4 linked regions of the Homo sapiens genome follow. The protein of the gene in region 2 purifies or fractionates together with the protein of the main gene of each other region. This does not show direct contact. Each region holds a gene or a part of one and is shown on either strand. Other genes may lie near its edges.

The links.
Region 1: the proteins of HEATR5B (region 2) and PPP6R2 purify together in Homo sapiens (affinity purification with mass spectrometry, with the first as the bait; one study listed by BioGRID). This does not show direct contact.
Region 3: the proteins of HEATR5B (region 2) and ELAVL1 purify together in Homo sapiens (affinity purification with mass spectrometry, with the first as the bait; one study listed by BioGRID). This does not show direct contact.
Region 4: the proteins of HEATR5B (region 2) and STRN purify together in Homo sapiens (affinity purification with mass spectrometry, with the first as the bait; one study listed by BioGRID). This does not show direct contact.

What each region holds. Positions count from the first base shown.
Region 1 is NC_000022.11:50,346,322-50,349,891, forward strand, and holds part of PPP6R2 (serine/threonine-protein phosphatase 6 regulatory subunit 2), read left to right. Parts: intron 1-3,570. UniProt on the Homo sapiens protein: Regulatory subunit of protein phosphatase 6 (PP6). May function as a scaffolding PP6 subunit. Involved in the PP6-mediated dephosphorylation of NFKBIE opposing its degradation in response to TNF-alpha.
Region 2 is NC_000002.12:37,053,328-37,056,897, reverse strand, and holds part of HEATR5B (HEAT repeat-containing protein 5B), read left to right. Parts: intron 1-282; coding exon 283-458; intron 459-3,290; coding exon 3,291-3,396; intron 3,397-3,570.
Region 3 is NC_000019.10:7,995,576-7,999,145, forward strand, and holds part of ELAVL1 (ELAV-like protein 1), read right to left. Parts: intron 1-3,570. UniProt on the Homo sapiens protein: RNA-binding protein that binds to the 3'-UTR region of mRNAs and increases their stability.
Region 4 is NC_000002.12:36,841,015-36,844,584, forward strand, and holds part of STRN (striatin), read right to left. Parts: 3' UTR 1-3,570. UniProt on the Homo sapiens protein: Calmodulin-binding scaffolding protein which is the center of the striatin-interacting phosphatase and kinase (STRIPAK) complexes.

The sequences.
Region 1 (3,570 bases), on a different chromosome or scaffold from region 2:
AGTGCCCCCCCAGTCAGTTCCCCCCGCAATCAGTTCCCCCGTCAGTGCCCCCTCCAGTCAGTGCCCCCCAAATCAGTGCCCCCAGTCAGTGCCCACTCCAGTCAGTTCCCCTCCAGTAAGTGCCCCCCAAGTCAGTTTCCTCCCAAGTCAGGGCCCCCTCCAGTCAGTTCCCTCCCAGTCAGTCAGTGCCCCCCCAGTCAGTGCCCTCCTTCTGTTCCCCCACCCTACACCAGTCAGTGCTTCCTGCACCAGTCAGTGTCCCCTGCTAGCTAGTCATTGCACCTCACCCATCAGTCCCCACCCCACCCATCAGTGCCCCCCACCGTCAGTCAGTGCCCCTTGCAAGTCATGCTCCTCCTGTCGGTCAGTGCCTCCGCATCTGTCAGTCCGCGCACTGGTCAGTGCCTCCACTGTTGGTCAGTGCTCCCCCACCGTCAGTCCACTCTGCTCCCCATCAGTGTCCCCCAGTCAGAGTCCCGCATCCCTGTCCCCCGTCAGCCAGTGCCCCCCCAGTCAATTATTTTCTTTCTGTCATGTCCCCACTTCCCATCAGTGCCTGCACCCCCACCCGTACCCGTCAGTCACTGACCGCATAATCCCTCCCCTGCCAGTGCCCTTCCTTGTCAGTCCAAGCGCTCTGTGACCCCTTCTGTCAGCAATGTCCCCACCTGTCATTGATCTTCTCTGTCAGTGCCCCCCATCAGTGCCAGTGCCTCTGTCAGTGAGCCCCACTGTCAGTAAGTTTCCCTCATAAGTGTCTCCCTCATCCTGCCTGTTGTGGCCCTTCCGCTCTTTGCTATCGGCCTCTGTGTTAGTGCCTGTCAGATCCTCCCCATCAGTTCTCCCCTGTTGTCAGTTCCTGTCCCCTTTCATGCTACCTCCTTCATCCCTTATCTGTTAGGGACCCATTAGTACCCTGCCCTGCTGTTAGTGACCCCACCTGTCAGTGTCTCCCCACTGCTTCTCTCCTGCCTGTCAGTGGGAGAACTTTCAGTGCCCGCTGTCATCACCCCTCTTGTCCAATCACTGATTCCCCTTTCCATTATTTCCTAACCCTTTCCAACACTACTCGTCTTTTCCTGTCGCGCTCCCCATCACGGCTTGAGATATCACCAGTCATCTAACCTCACCTTACCCCGCACTGCCCTGTTGCTTCCATCCCCATCATCTCTTCCTTCAGCCTGTCACCTTCCCCCATGCACCGTACTGTCCCCCGACCTGCCACTCTGTGTACTCGCAGCTTCCCTACCTGCTTTGTCCACTCTCTTGTTACTGACTCCTCCCAATTTGCTGCTCATTCCCTGACCTGTCAGCACCAGCTCCCCCAAGTCTGTCACTTCCATTTAGTCCCTGCCTTTCACTGCAGCCCCCTCTTTGTCACTGTACCCACTGATTTTGTTCTAGACCCTTCTCCTGTGTCTTGTTCTTTCATCCACCCTTCCCTCATGGCCTCTCTCTGCCCTGCTCTTGGCTTCTCCTTGCCCCTGCAGTTGCCGACACTGTTCACTGTTCACTGAAAGAGGCTCTTCACCTCTTTTTGATGTCCCTTTTTCTGGTTTATCTTCCCTTTGTTTTTATTTTTTACTTTAAAATGTTGTGGGTACACAATAGGTGTATATATCTCTCCCCTTTGACTTTTCTAACTCACTTCAGTTAATCTTTGGAATGTGAGAGGCAGCTAGCTTTGAGACAAATTGGGGGACAGAGTCTCCCATGCTGAGAGGACAGCACATGCAAAGGCCCTGAAGTGGGAAATTTTGGGTGTGATATCCTCCAGGAACCTAGATAAGACTGATGTGCTTATGGTAAGGGAGAGAGAGGCAGGAGCCTGGGCTGGAAAGTTGGTTTTCTCATTAAGCCGTTCCTTGCAGGTGTTAGTAGGGAGTTGGACCTTCAGTCTGAGTTGTAGGAGAAACCTGGCCTGGAGATTGAGTTGGAGAGTGCCATGATCATATGGACATTGGCACGTGGACAGCAGGTGGGGGTGAGATGAAGTGTTGGGAGCTGGGTGTAGTGATTGTAATGGTTTAGAACTTGGTGGTGGGTTTAGGGAGATATTTTGGAGGTAGAGCTGTTGGGACTTGTTGGTAGATGAGAAGAGAGGTGTGAGAGAATGAATGGACTCAGGGTAATTTCTGGGCTGCTTTTATCCTCCCAGCCCCATCAACCCTTCTAGGCTTTCTGATGGAACAAATGGGTGGATAGTAGCACTGTTTATTGAAATAGGGAAGCTGAATTAGGGTGGTGTCAGGGCTGGGGGTGTTACTACAGTTTGGAAGTAGAAAGCAAGGCTTTCTCTTGGCTGAAAGTAGGGGAAGTCTGAGAAGTCCGAGGGTCACTAGGGAGAAGGTATCTTACAGGAGGGTCTGGAACCCAGAGGAGAGGCCAAGCCGCAGGTATACAACTGTCATCATGGGGGCAAGGTATAAAGCCTTGGGGATGGCTATTTATTTAAAAGCACATGGGCTGGGTGCGGTGGTTCACGCCTGTAATCCCAGCACTTTGGGAGGCTGAGGTGGGAGCATCACTTAAGGCCAGGGCAGCCTGGGGACATGACAAAACCCTATCTCTACAAAAACAAAAAGCAGGGCCGGGCGCAGTGGCTCACGCCTGTAATCCCAGCACTTTGGGATGCTGAGGCGGGCGGATCACCTGAGGTCAGGAGTTCGAGACCAGCTTGGCCAACATAGTGAAACTCCATCTCTACTGAAAATACAAAAAAAACTAGCCAGGCATGGTGGTGGGCGCCTGTAATCCCAGCTACTCAGGAGGCTGGGGCAGGAGAATCGCTTGAACCTGGGAGGTGGAGGTTGCAGTGTGCCGAGATTGTGCCATTGCACTCTAGCCTGGGCGACAAGAGTGAGACTTCCTCTCAAAAAAAAAAAAAAAAAAAAAAGTTGGGCATGGTGGTGTGCGCCTATAGTCCCAGCTGCTCGGACACTGAGGTGGCAGGATCACCTGAGCCTGGGGAGGTCAAGGCTGCAGTGAGCTGTGATCACTCCATTGCACTCCAGCCTGGGCGACAGCGTGAGACCCTGTCTCAAAAAAAAAAAAAAAAAAAAACGGGCTGGACGTGGTGACTCGTGCCTATAATCCCAGCACTTTGGGAGGCTGAGGCGGGAGGATCACTTGAGGCCAGGAGTTCTAGACCAGCCTGAGCAACATAGTGAGGCCCCATCTCTGCCAAAAATAAATAAAAGCACACCCACAAAAGCAGAATGTGGCCAGGCATAGTGGCTCATGCCTGTAATCCCAGCAGTTTGGGAGGCTGAGGCAGGTGGATCACCTGAGGTCAGGAATTCGAGACCAGCCTGGCCAACATGGTGAAACCCCGTCTTTACTAAAAATACAAAAAATTAGCCAGGCGTGGTGGCATGCGCCTGTAATCCCAGCTGAGGCAGGAGAATTGCTTGAACCCGGGAAGCGGAGGTTGCAGTGAGCCAAGATCACAACATTGCATTCCATTCTGGGCAACAAGAGTGAAACTCCATCTTAAAAAAAAAAAAAACAGAAAAAAGCAGCTGGGTGTGGTGGCCCACGCCTGTAATCAGTTTGGGAGGCCGAGGCGGG
Region 2 (3,570 bases):
ATTGTGGGATTAAGATCTTGTGTATATTGTTCACGCAATAAGGTGGGTGGTGTAAATATGTTTTCGAATGAATAAAGCTTTTCTTAAAATTTGTATAAGGTGTTACTGATGATTTTTTAATGACCAAATTACATTTTGGTCTGTTTTCAAATGTTCGGATCCAATCATTCTTTTTTTGTTGCCTTTTCTCCTTTCTCCTCTGCTGTAATCCTCATTCCCAATGTTTAATAAGTAGATTTCCTAAAGTAGATTTTGAATAATTTTTATTTCACTCTTTTGCAGCTCCAGCCAAACAGTGCCTCTGGAAGTGGGGCTCTGGAGCATGATCCTTCCTCTATTTATTTACGCATACCTGCTGGAGAAGCAGTACCTGGTCCCCTCCCTCTCGGAGTCTCAGTCATTGATGCTTCTGTGGCCCTTTTTGGTGTAGTGTTTCCTCATGTTTCTTATAAACACCGGTTAGTATAAAGTCAATCAGGTAATTTTTGTTAAATATATATTATGTTAAACGAAAAGTAGATTTTCTCATCCCAGTTAACTCTGCAATAAAGTGAGTTATTATAATACTTAAAACAGTACTCTTACAGATTTACTAATGTAAGTGACAGATACATGATAAAAAAATTGCATGCAAATTGCACATAATTTGAGACTTTATGTAAGATTTGACCCTGTGTACTAGCATCTGATATCTGTTGTATTGTGGACTGTATTTTATAACAAAATTTTCATTATATATGCTAGAATGACAACTGTTGGCAAAAAAAAAAATGCATTATAATAGTTTGTTTGATAGTTCATACATAGGTTTTGACTATATCTTAAATTAAGGACATCAGTTTGCTAAGCCTGTTGACTTTGTTGTTGAGGAAGTAAATGGATGAAAATTCCAATCACTAATAACGTTTGTGAGATGGTTCAAGTCTAGAACTTGGAAACTAACATAATTGGTTCTTTTTGTAATAGAAGCATTTTGGTTTGGTATATTCTGTATCCACAGACACTATTCCTAGCTTTAGTAGGCAGTTTGTATATTGTGATTTTCCCAAAAGGAAAACAGAAATGAATTAATACAAGACCATCACAGATAACTTAAAAGCTTTACAAAATTAAAATGCCTTAAAAGTATTGTTGGGTCTGGTGTGGTGGCTTATGTCTGCAATCCCAGCGCTTTGGGAGGCTAAGGCAAGAGAATTGCTTGAGGCAAGGAGTTTCAGACCAGCCTGGGAAACATAGTGAGACACTCATCTCTACAAAAATTACAAAATAAAAAATGTCTTTAATATGTAGGTTGCTTGATTAATTGCTTTTTAATTTGAGGAGAAAAAAGTTTAAATATGAAACTTTACCCAAATATCTTTAAGAACATTTGGTTGCCACATAAATGTTAAATGATGTTAAAGGTGGAAGAATCTTATAAAGCATCTATTTCAACATTTTGGTTTTAAATCTTAAGGACATCCATATCTAAGAGTTTGGTTTACCCAAGGTTATACAACTAGTTATGAAAGCTATAACTGAAATCCAGGATTATCTCAATTCTGTATGATCACTTTTACAGAATAAGATGAAGTATAAATAAATAAATTCTATTAAAAATATAAACATATAATAAATAACATAAATATTCAACAGTAGGAGGATAAGTGAATAAATAATAGAAAGTCCATTTTTGTAGAGACAGTGTTTTGATAGAAGATGCTCATGATACAATGTTAAATTAAAAAGGTAAAAAGCAAGAAGTGATCCTACTTTGGTTTTCAACCAGCAGGCTGTGCGGCTTAATATATTTACTGCTGTTCTTAGTGCACAAAAGGTACTTACTTACTTTTAAGAATTTTTTAAAGTACATCAAAATGTGCATGTATACACGTACATCTGAATCTGTATCTTCATATGAGTTTTGAATAATGCTTTGACCTGAGACCTGAGACCTGTAGACTAGTATAAATTGAGCTTTAAATCCTTACAGCGACCTCAGGGAGATTTTATTACCAACTTGAGGTCATAATTGTCTTAGTACTAAATCCAACTTCCTTGGATTCCTTTGTTTCACATCATTTCTTTTTAGAAGAATGCTCTCTCACTCTCTTTTTATCAAAATCTTCTGAAATGGGCCGGGCGTTGTGGCTCACACCTGTTATCCCAGCACTTCGGGAGGCAAAGGTGGGCAGATCACCTGAGGTCAGGAGTTTGAGACCAGCCTGGCCAACATGGTAAAATCCTTCTCTACTAAAAATACAAAATTAGCTGGGTGTAGTGGCGAACACCTGTAGTCCCAGCTACTCGGGAGGCTGAGGCAGGAGAATCATATGAACCCAGGAGGCAGAGGTTGCAGGGAGGCAAGATTGCACCATTGCACTCCAGCCTGGGCAACAAGAGCGAAACTCAGTCTCAAAAAAAAAAAAAAAAAAAAATGCAGAGCACAGTGGCTCACGCCTGTAATCCCAGCACTTTGGGAGGCCGAGGTGGGCAGATCACCTGAGGTCGGGAGTTCGAGACCAGCCTGACCAACATGGAGAAACCCAGTCTCTACTAAAAATACAAAATTAGCCAGGCGTGGTGGCGCATGCTACTCGGGAGGCTGAGGCAGGAGAATCACTTGAACCTGGGAGGTGGAGATTGTGGTGAGCCGAGATCGCGCCATTGCACTCCAGCCTGGGCAACAAGAGCGAAACTCCATCTCAAAAAAAAAAAAAAAAAAACAGAGAAATCATCTAAGATGGCCATGGATTTTTTTTTTTTAATAAACTGATTCTTTTTTATTAATATAAAAAACAATTCACTTCTGGTTTTTTACATTTAAAAAAATTAGCCAAAGCTAAATCTTTTTTGAACTTTCCCAAAAGCTTCTGAGGCTAGGACATGAGGTACTATTCTAAGAGTATTTTTAAAATAGGAAAAAGAATTATACTACATTTAAAATTTTCTAACTTAAAAATCTTCCACGGAGATACATAATTAATGATTGTTATCTTTGCAAGAAACCTTGAGCGTCTACTAGATGCCAGGCGCTTTGTTGGACAGTGCTGTTAATGTTGAAGACCACTGCAATTGTGACCTTATTTTGTTAATTGAAACTCTTTTCTTGTTCCATTTAATAACCGCATGTCCATATAATATTTTGGGAGAAGGAGATCTGGTTTGGACTAGCTGTGGGAATGAAATAGAAAAGAGATAGCATGGGGAATTATTTGCTAAACAATTAACTTGTACTCTTCTTATCCGTTTTTGAGCCATATTGGAATAAAATTTGTCACTAATGTGATTTTTTTTTCTTATTGTTATAGATTACAAATGTTGGATCACTTTGCTGAATGTGTTAAACAAGCTAAAGGTGTCCGCCAGCAGGCTGTGCAGCTTAACATATTTACTGCTGTTCTTAGTGCACTAAAGGTATTTACTTTTAATACATACTATTCTGAAATAAGTTTTTAATTAATGCATTTAATAAGCCAGACATAGCAAGATTATTATAATGTTTATATGTAAATCACTTGGTAACTGTGCCTTTACGTTAGCTTAGTTAAATTACTTGAAACTTTATGTTAGGCTCAGTGTAGTTAAATA
Region 3 (3,570 bases), on a different chromosome or scaffold from region 2:
ATAGTTTTGTACTACAATAACACAGTTAAGTAGTAGCAACCGTATGGCCAAAAAAGCTGAGAATATTTACCATCTGGCTCTTCACACAAAAAAAATCTGCCGACCTCTGTTTTAAAATGTAAAAACATAAAATTTCTTGGAGAAAAATCTTTGTGGCATTGGGCTGGGGAAAGATTTCTCAGACACAACACCAAAAGCCCACTTCGTTAAAAAAAAAAAAAAATGGATAAACTGGATATCATCAAAATTTGAAACTTTTGCTCTGTGAAAGATACTGCTAGGAGAATTAAAATCCACCAACTGGAGTAAACATTTGCAAAAGGGACTTGTAGTCAGAACACTTTTTTTTTTTTTTGAGTCAAAGTCTCACTCCACTGCCCAGGCTGAAGTGCAATGCCATAATCATAGCTCACTGCAGCCACAAACTCTTGGGTTCAAGCAATCCTCCTGCCTCAGCCTTCTGGCTAATTTTTTATTTTTTGTCGAGATAGGGTCTCACTATGTTGCCCACGCTGGTCTTGAATTCCTGGTGTCAAGTGATCCTCCCATCTTGGCCTCTCAAAGTATTAGAATTATAGGCGTAAGCCACCTCACCCAACCCAGAACCCTTTTTTTTTTTTTTTTGAAATGGAGTCTTGCTCTGTCACCCAGGCTGGAGTGCAGTGGCATGATCTCCGCTCACTGCAAGCTCCACCTCCCGGGTTCATGCCATTCTCCTGCCTCAGCCTCCCAAGTAGCTGGGACTACAGGCGCCCGCCACCATGCCCAGCTAATTTTTTGTATTTTTAGTAGAGACGGGGTTTCACCGTGTTAGCCAGGATGGTCTCCATCTCCTGACCTCGTGATCTGCCCATCTGCCCACCTCGGCCTCCCAAAGTGCTGGGATTACAGGCGTGAGCCACCACGCCTGGCCCAGAACACTTTTTTTTAAGCTCTCAAAACAGAAGCAGGCTAGTGTGCTGGCTCATGCCTGGAATTCCAGCACTTTGGGAGGCCGAGGTGGGTGGATCACCTGAGGTCAGGAGTTTGAGACCAGTCCGGCCAACATGGTGAAACCCCATCTCTACAAAAATACAACAAAAAAAAAATTAGCAAGGCGTGGTGGTGGGCATCTGTAATCTCAGTTACTGGGGAGGCTGAGGCAGGAGAATCGCTTGAACCTGGGAGGCAGAGGTTGCAATGAGCCGAGATGGCGCCACTGTACTCCAAACTGGGCGATAGGGCCAGACTCCATCTCCAAAAACCAAAAACAACATAATGAGCAAACAACCTGGTTTCAAAAATGGCAAAAGATTTGAACAGATACTATACCAAAGAATATATATGGATGGCAGACAGGCACATGAAAAGATGCTCAACATCATTAGTCAAATTAAAACCACATCGAGACACCGCTACCCACTTATTAGAATGGCTAAAGCAAAATAAAACAAAAAACAACCAACAGCAACAAAACAGACAATGTCAAGTGCTGGCAGGGATGTGGAGAAGCCAGAATATTCATGCACTGCTGGTGGGAATGCAAAAATGTGAAATGTGACAGCCACTTTGGAAAACAGATTGGCAGTTTCTTATGGTGAAATATACACTTAGCATGGGATCCAGCAATCCTACTCCTAGTATTAAGGCAATAGAAAGGAAAATCTATATTCACACAAAAATCTGTATATAAATGTGCAGAGCGGCATTATTCATAATCATCCAAAACTACAACAACCCAAATATTCTTCAAGCCATTCATGGATAAACTGGGATACACCATACAACAGAATACCACCTGGCAATAAAAGGTATCACCAATTCATGCTACTTGTGTGAATCTCAAACACATCTTGCCACATCATTTCTGTGCCTTCCTGGAAAAGGCAAAACCATAGGGATGGATCTGTGGTCGCTGGGGTTAGGGAGTGAGGGGAAAAGTCGATTACACAGGGACAGGAGGAGGGAGTATTTCTGTTTGTGGGAGAGCGAACTTTCCAATCTTTATTATGGTGGTAATCAAACAACTTTATCCGTTTGTCAAAACTCAGAGAACTCTACTCGAAAAAATGAATTTTCCTACATGCAAATTTAAAAATAAATTGTCTGAGTGTGGCGACTCATGCCTTTAATCCCAGCGCTTTCAGAGGCCAAGGTGGGAGGACTGCTTAAGCCTGGAGTTCAAGACCAGCCTGGGCAGCACAGAGAGATGCCATCATTACAAAAAAAAAAAAAATTAAAAATTACCCAGGAATGGTGATGCACACCTGTATGCAATCCCAGCTAATCGGGGGGCTCAGCTGGGAGGATCACTAGAGCCTGGGAGGTCAATACTGCAGTTAGCTATGATTGTGCCACTGCAGTCCAGCGTGGGCGACAGAGTGAGATCCTGCCTCAAAAACAACAACAAAACCACAATAAAAATAAATTTTAAAAGGTTTAAAAAGAGAACTTCTGCTTTGCGGCCCTGTTCCTCCTGACACTCTGAGTCAAGGCTGAGCAGCCCCTGCAGGTCAAGTTCTTGGTCAACTAGTAACACGGGAGAAACCAACAACCTGCCCTGCAAAGCAGTTTCATGACGTTTCTGGGCCCCCACCCCACTCTCTGGAGGCCCTTCCCTTGACCTTCTCCAAATCTGCATCATCAATCCTGGGCCAAATCAGCTTCTATCCCACAAGCTCCAACCACAACTGGGCCTTGTCACCACTCAATTATCACTGACTCCCAAGTCGTAGCCACTTCTGTCTCTCGAGGTGCAAGGCCTGCACTGTCCTGCAATCAAGATGCTCACCCCTCTGGTATTCCCTGTCAGTGGTCACCACCCATTGAGGCTCGGCGGTCACACGATGATGCTCACGGTCAGGCATGCCATTAATAAGTGGCAGGGCCAGGCCTCAAGTTGTCATGACAATGCAACTGTCAAACTGGCAAGGCCCTTCACAATCGGACCCAGGTGGTTCTCCAGCCTCAGTCGCCACCCTCCCTTCCCGCTCACTCCAGCTTCTTGCCAATATGCTACAGGCCTCTGCTTTGGCTGTTCCCTCTGCAGGGCACTAGTGTCCTCTCCTTCACTTCCCAGCTCATTTTTTAAAATTAGTATTTTTTTTTAAAGAGATGGGGGTCTCTCTTTGTTGCCCAGGCTGGTCTTGAACTCCCAAGCTCAAGTGATCCTCCTACTTTGGCCTCCCAAAGTGCTGGAATTGCAGGTGTGAGCCACCATGCCTGGCCTCCCAGCTCACTTCTATTTTTACTTATTTTTCTTTTGAGAAAGGGTCTTGCTCTGCTGCCAAACTAGAGTGCAGTGGCATAATCACGGCTCACTGCAGCCTCAAACTGCCTCAGTTTCCCAAGTAGCTGGGACTACTGGTGTGTGCCACCATACCTGGCTGATTTTTAAATTTTTTTAGAGACAGGGGTCTCATTTTGTTGCCCATGCTGGCTTCAAGTCATCCTCCCACCTGGGCCTCCCAAAGTGCTGGGATTATAGGTGAGAGCCACTACACCAGGCTGGCTCATCTTTAAAAAGCTACCTTCCTGGCCTGGCGTGGTGGCTTATGCCTGTAATCCCAGCAATGTGGGAGGCCGAGGTAG
Region 4 (3,570 bases), 210 kb from region 2:
ACAAAATTGCCTGGAACTACAACCTTCAAGTTCAAAATTTCTACCTCCAGAAAGCAATGATGTTTCTAAAGATTCTCTTATTTTTTAATTGTGATTAGTAGATGTGTATTCCTACGTATTCTACAGCAATGAGAAATAAGGAGCACATTCTTTTTTTTTTTTTTTAATCAAATCGATTCTGACAAAAGGAGTTTATTGTCTTGCTTGTTAAAAGGCTGACCAAAAAGAAAGTAAGTCTGAATGTTTCAGAGTTGGGAGAAAGCCTGATTCCTTCTGACCCTGAGATATACAAGGAAACTGAACAAATACCAGGCAGCAAAATACTGAGACATTTACCACATAAGAAAGCATTCTTACATAGCAGTTGAGTACTGGGAAGGTTGTTGGGGAGGGTATTATTCACAAACAACTGTCAAAAGATATGAGACCACCGAGTTTTTCTTTTTCTAAAAATCACACTGAGTGATATTATTCTATCAAGAGGATATTCTGAAATACGTGGGCTATCGAAAAAGATGTAAGTACATTTTAAAAATGTTTTTAAAAGCATAGTCAAAACCATTCAAAAGAGAACTCACTCTGTAAAAACGATTCTCATATTTTTTCATGAGATTATCACTTGGCTACTTTAGGATATTTCTTACATGCCTGGTCTTCATCCTGACATATGCAGATGACACAAAATACTTGGGCTTATATTTTTACAGCTTCCTAAAATATAATGAAAACTATTTCCTCTGACACTTTGCCATGGGGCTCTAGGATACTTTTGATATATTTCCTAAAAATATTTAATTTAGATAACAAGGACCAATGACAAGCCAGAATTGGAACCATTCATTCTTTGAGGTCAGAAGTGGTATACTGCCAGCCCATTGAAGTTGAAATGGAAGACAATGTGGCTCAGGCCACAGGGTCAGTTGCTTCTCCTTTTTGGTAAGGTACTTCTTTCCCCACACTCTCACCCAAGTTATCCAGCCCCCAAAATAAACTGTTTCTGATAAAATTACTTTTGCTCTAAGTTAATTTTGTTTATGCATGAAAAATTATTGTCTTGGTCCCATTTCCAAAGGGAAGTAGTTGGATGCCAGCATACTTTAACATTTCGGCACATATACAAACCACAAGCTGTTTATTTCTACAACTCACGATTAATGTAAAACGTTGCTTTCCATGTGCTTTTTTTTCTTAAAGTTTTCAGTTTGGGCATATTTAATTGTGGATGATGGGTTTCCCTACCATTACCCTTAATTTGATGCTATTAGAATTTTTAAAAATCTTTTGTTTGAGGCAATGAATTGGGAACCTGGTACATACACTAGATTTTATGATGGCATAAGAAATTATAGCACATAAATTAATAACACTATAGTACTCCAAGTGCTGTTTAACAGATGTTTTACTGTGGGCTCTCCTTTACATCACTGGGTTAATTACCTAAAGAGGGACACAGAAAAAGTCAATGTGGAGCTGGCATCTGGACCACTCTTCACGTAAGGTGAATGGCTAAATCACCAAGGACAAGATACTTTTCTATGAAATAGGTCCTTCCTATCAGTAGGTTATTGCAGACTTTGCTCACCCAAATAATGACTTCCAATCTAACTGAAACTACCATTACCTTTAGTGAAATATCAATTAGGAATAAGGAAAGGGTTAGGTTTTGTAGGGTTTGAGTGATACTTAGAAGCGAGTCATTTTATGTTTGGTGGGTTTTGAATCATTTGATATACAAAACTTACTGAGTTAAAATTTGTGTTTCAGAAAACGGATTCCAATTTTCAGAGCCGTATGTCAGTGCTTCCTTAGAGAACTGGAGTGTTCTGGTCATCCTGAGAAGTAACAGGCGGAGGGATGCTCCATGATTATAATGTTTAGGTTAAAAGGTATGCTTGACTCCCAAGGTGTTCTGGGAATATTTTATGTGCCAGGACAATGCTGGGGCCCTGCAAAACATCAGTGATCTTGGGAAACCCAGAGGAGGTCAGAATACTACCTGGCAATCTTAGGCTGACCCCAGGAGGTTCATCAATCCGTGAATAATTTTTGGAGTTTTAATGACCTCCTGAGATAGATCTCCAAAATTACTCAAGCTAATCATGTCTCAGTTCTCATTAAAAAGATAAAAGAGGTGTTTCCAACACTACTGAAAATGTGTGTACATACCAAAGGATATAATACTCATTAGTATACCAGCATACAGAACACCAAACAATGGTGGATAGTTTCAAGGATATCAGAAGAGATGCCTTTTAAATTTCATATTGTATTGTGGATCCTGATTGGAACAAAAAGACTGTGAGTTCTGGGCAGGCCAAAGGCCTTGAAAAATAATGTTGATTTGAAGGGGCAGGGAGTGTGGAAGGCTTGTGTATGTCTGTTAAGTAGCGAAACAAAAAATAAAAACATTGTATTTATATATGTGTATAAATTTTAAAAGCCATTTAAACTGAACATTTGAAAAACATAAAACCTATTCATTAAACATATGTGTCTCTGAAAGTACCACTGACCCAATCCTAGAAGCTATTTTAATTTGGCTTTTCAGAGGCCCAAATTCTCTATAAACTTCTCCTTCCTCACAATCAGTAATTAAGACTGGTTCATTAATTTTGGACTCATGTATACTTTGTCTAATATCCTTTTATTTCTCTGCACCCCTCTACAACTCCTCCCCCAAAAGCCCCAAATCAGACTATGTTAATTTAACTGATTACTGTAAAGCCACAGCTAGATCCCAAATCTGACAAATATTCCAATTCATGAGACACCTATAGCATGTTATCTATATTTGTACACTTTATTTAAAAACAAATAATACACTTAGAGCCACCAAAGATGGATATCTTAATTAGCTTATCCATACCCTGAATTTACATAAGAAACTTCTTGCACCACAAAAATTAGCATTTGGATTAATTTACATTAATTGATGTAACTAAAATTTAAAATACCTGAAGATCAAACAATCTGGCCCAGGGCTCACCAGCTGGAGGACTGGGTGTGGAGAGAAAGGGTTATTTAGGAATCTGAATTGATGACACCCTGTGGTCAGCTCTAGTCAACTGAACTTGAGAAAACATAAAGTAACCAGCAGATTTCAATATTAAAAAGAAGTGGTTCCTCCTAAAAAAGGTATTAGATCATAGAGTTGGGATTAGGGTAGGGGATACCTATTAATCTGGGCTGGAAAAAAAGTGTGTGGAGAAGGGGAGTTGTATTGTTTTCTCACAAGAGGCAAACTTCAGCCAAACAATGAAGAGATAGTAGGGAGGGAGATGTGTGGTAGACCAAAGACTTTCTGATTGCTGATAATAACAAATTTAGCAGCTCTCTACAAGTCAATTAAAATACCATTCTCTGAGACATTTTCAGAGAGGAGCTAACTAACACCCACCCAGGGGGGAAAAATCATTCTACATTAACAAGGCACTCACTGGTTCACAGCCTGTTAAAAACCCAGGCAGACATTAGAATCTAAATTAAAATGATTTTGAAAATTTGCATCAGAGAGATGACAAGCATGTGGTCCTGGTTAAATTAAATCTAAAGCTTGGATTAGCAAAGATC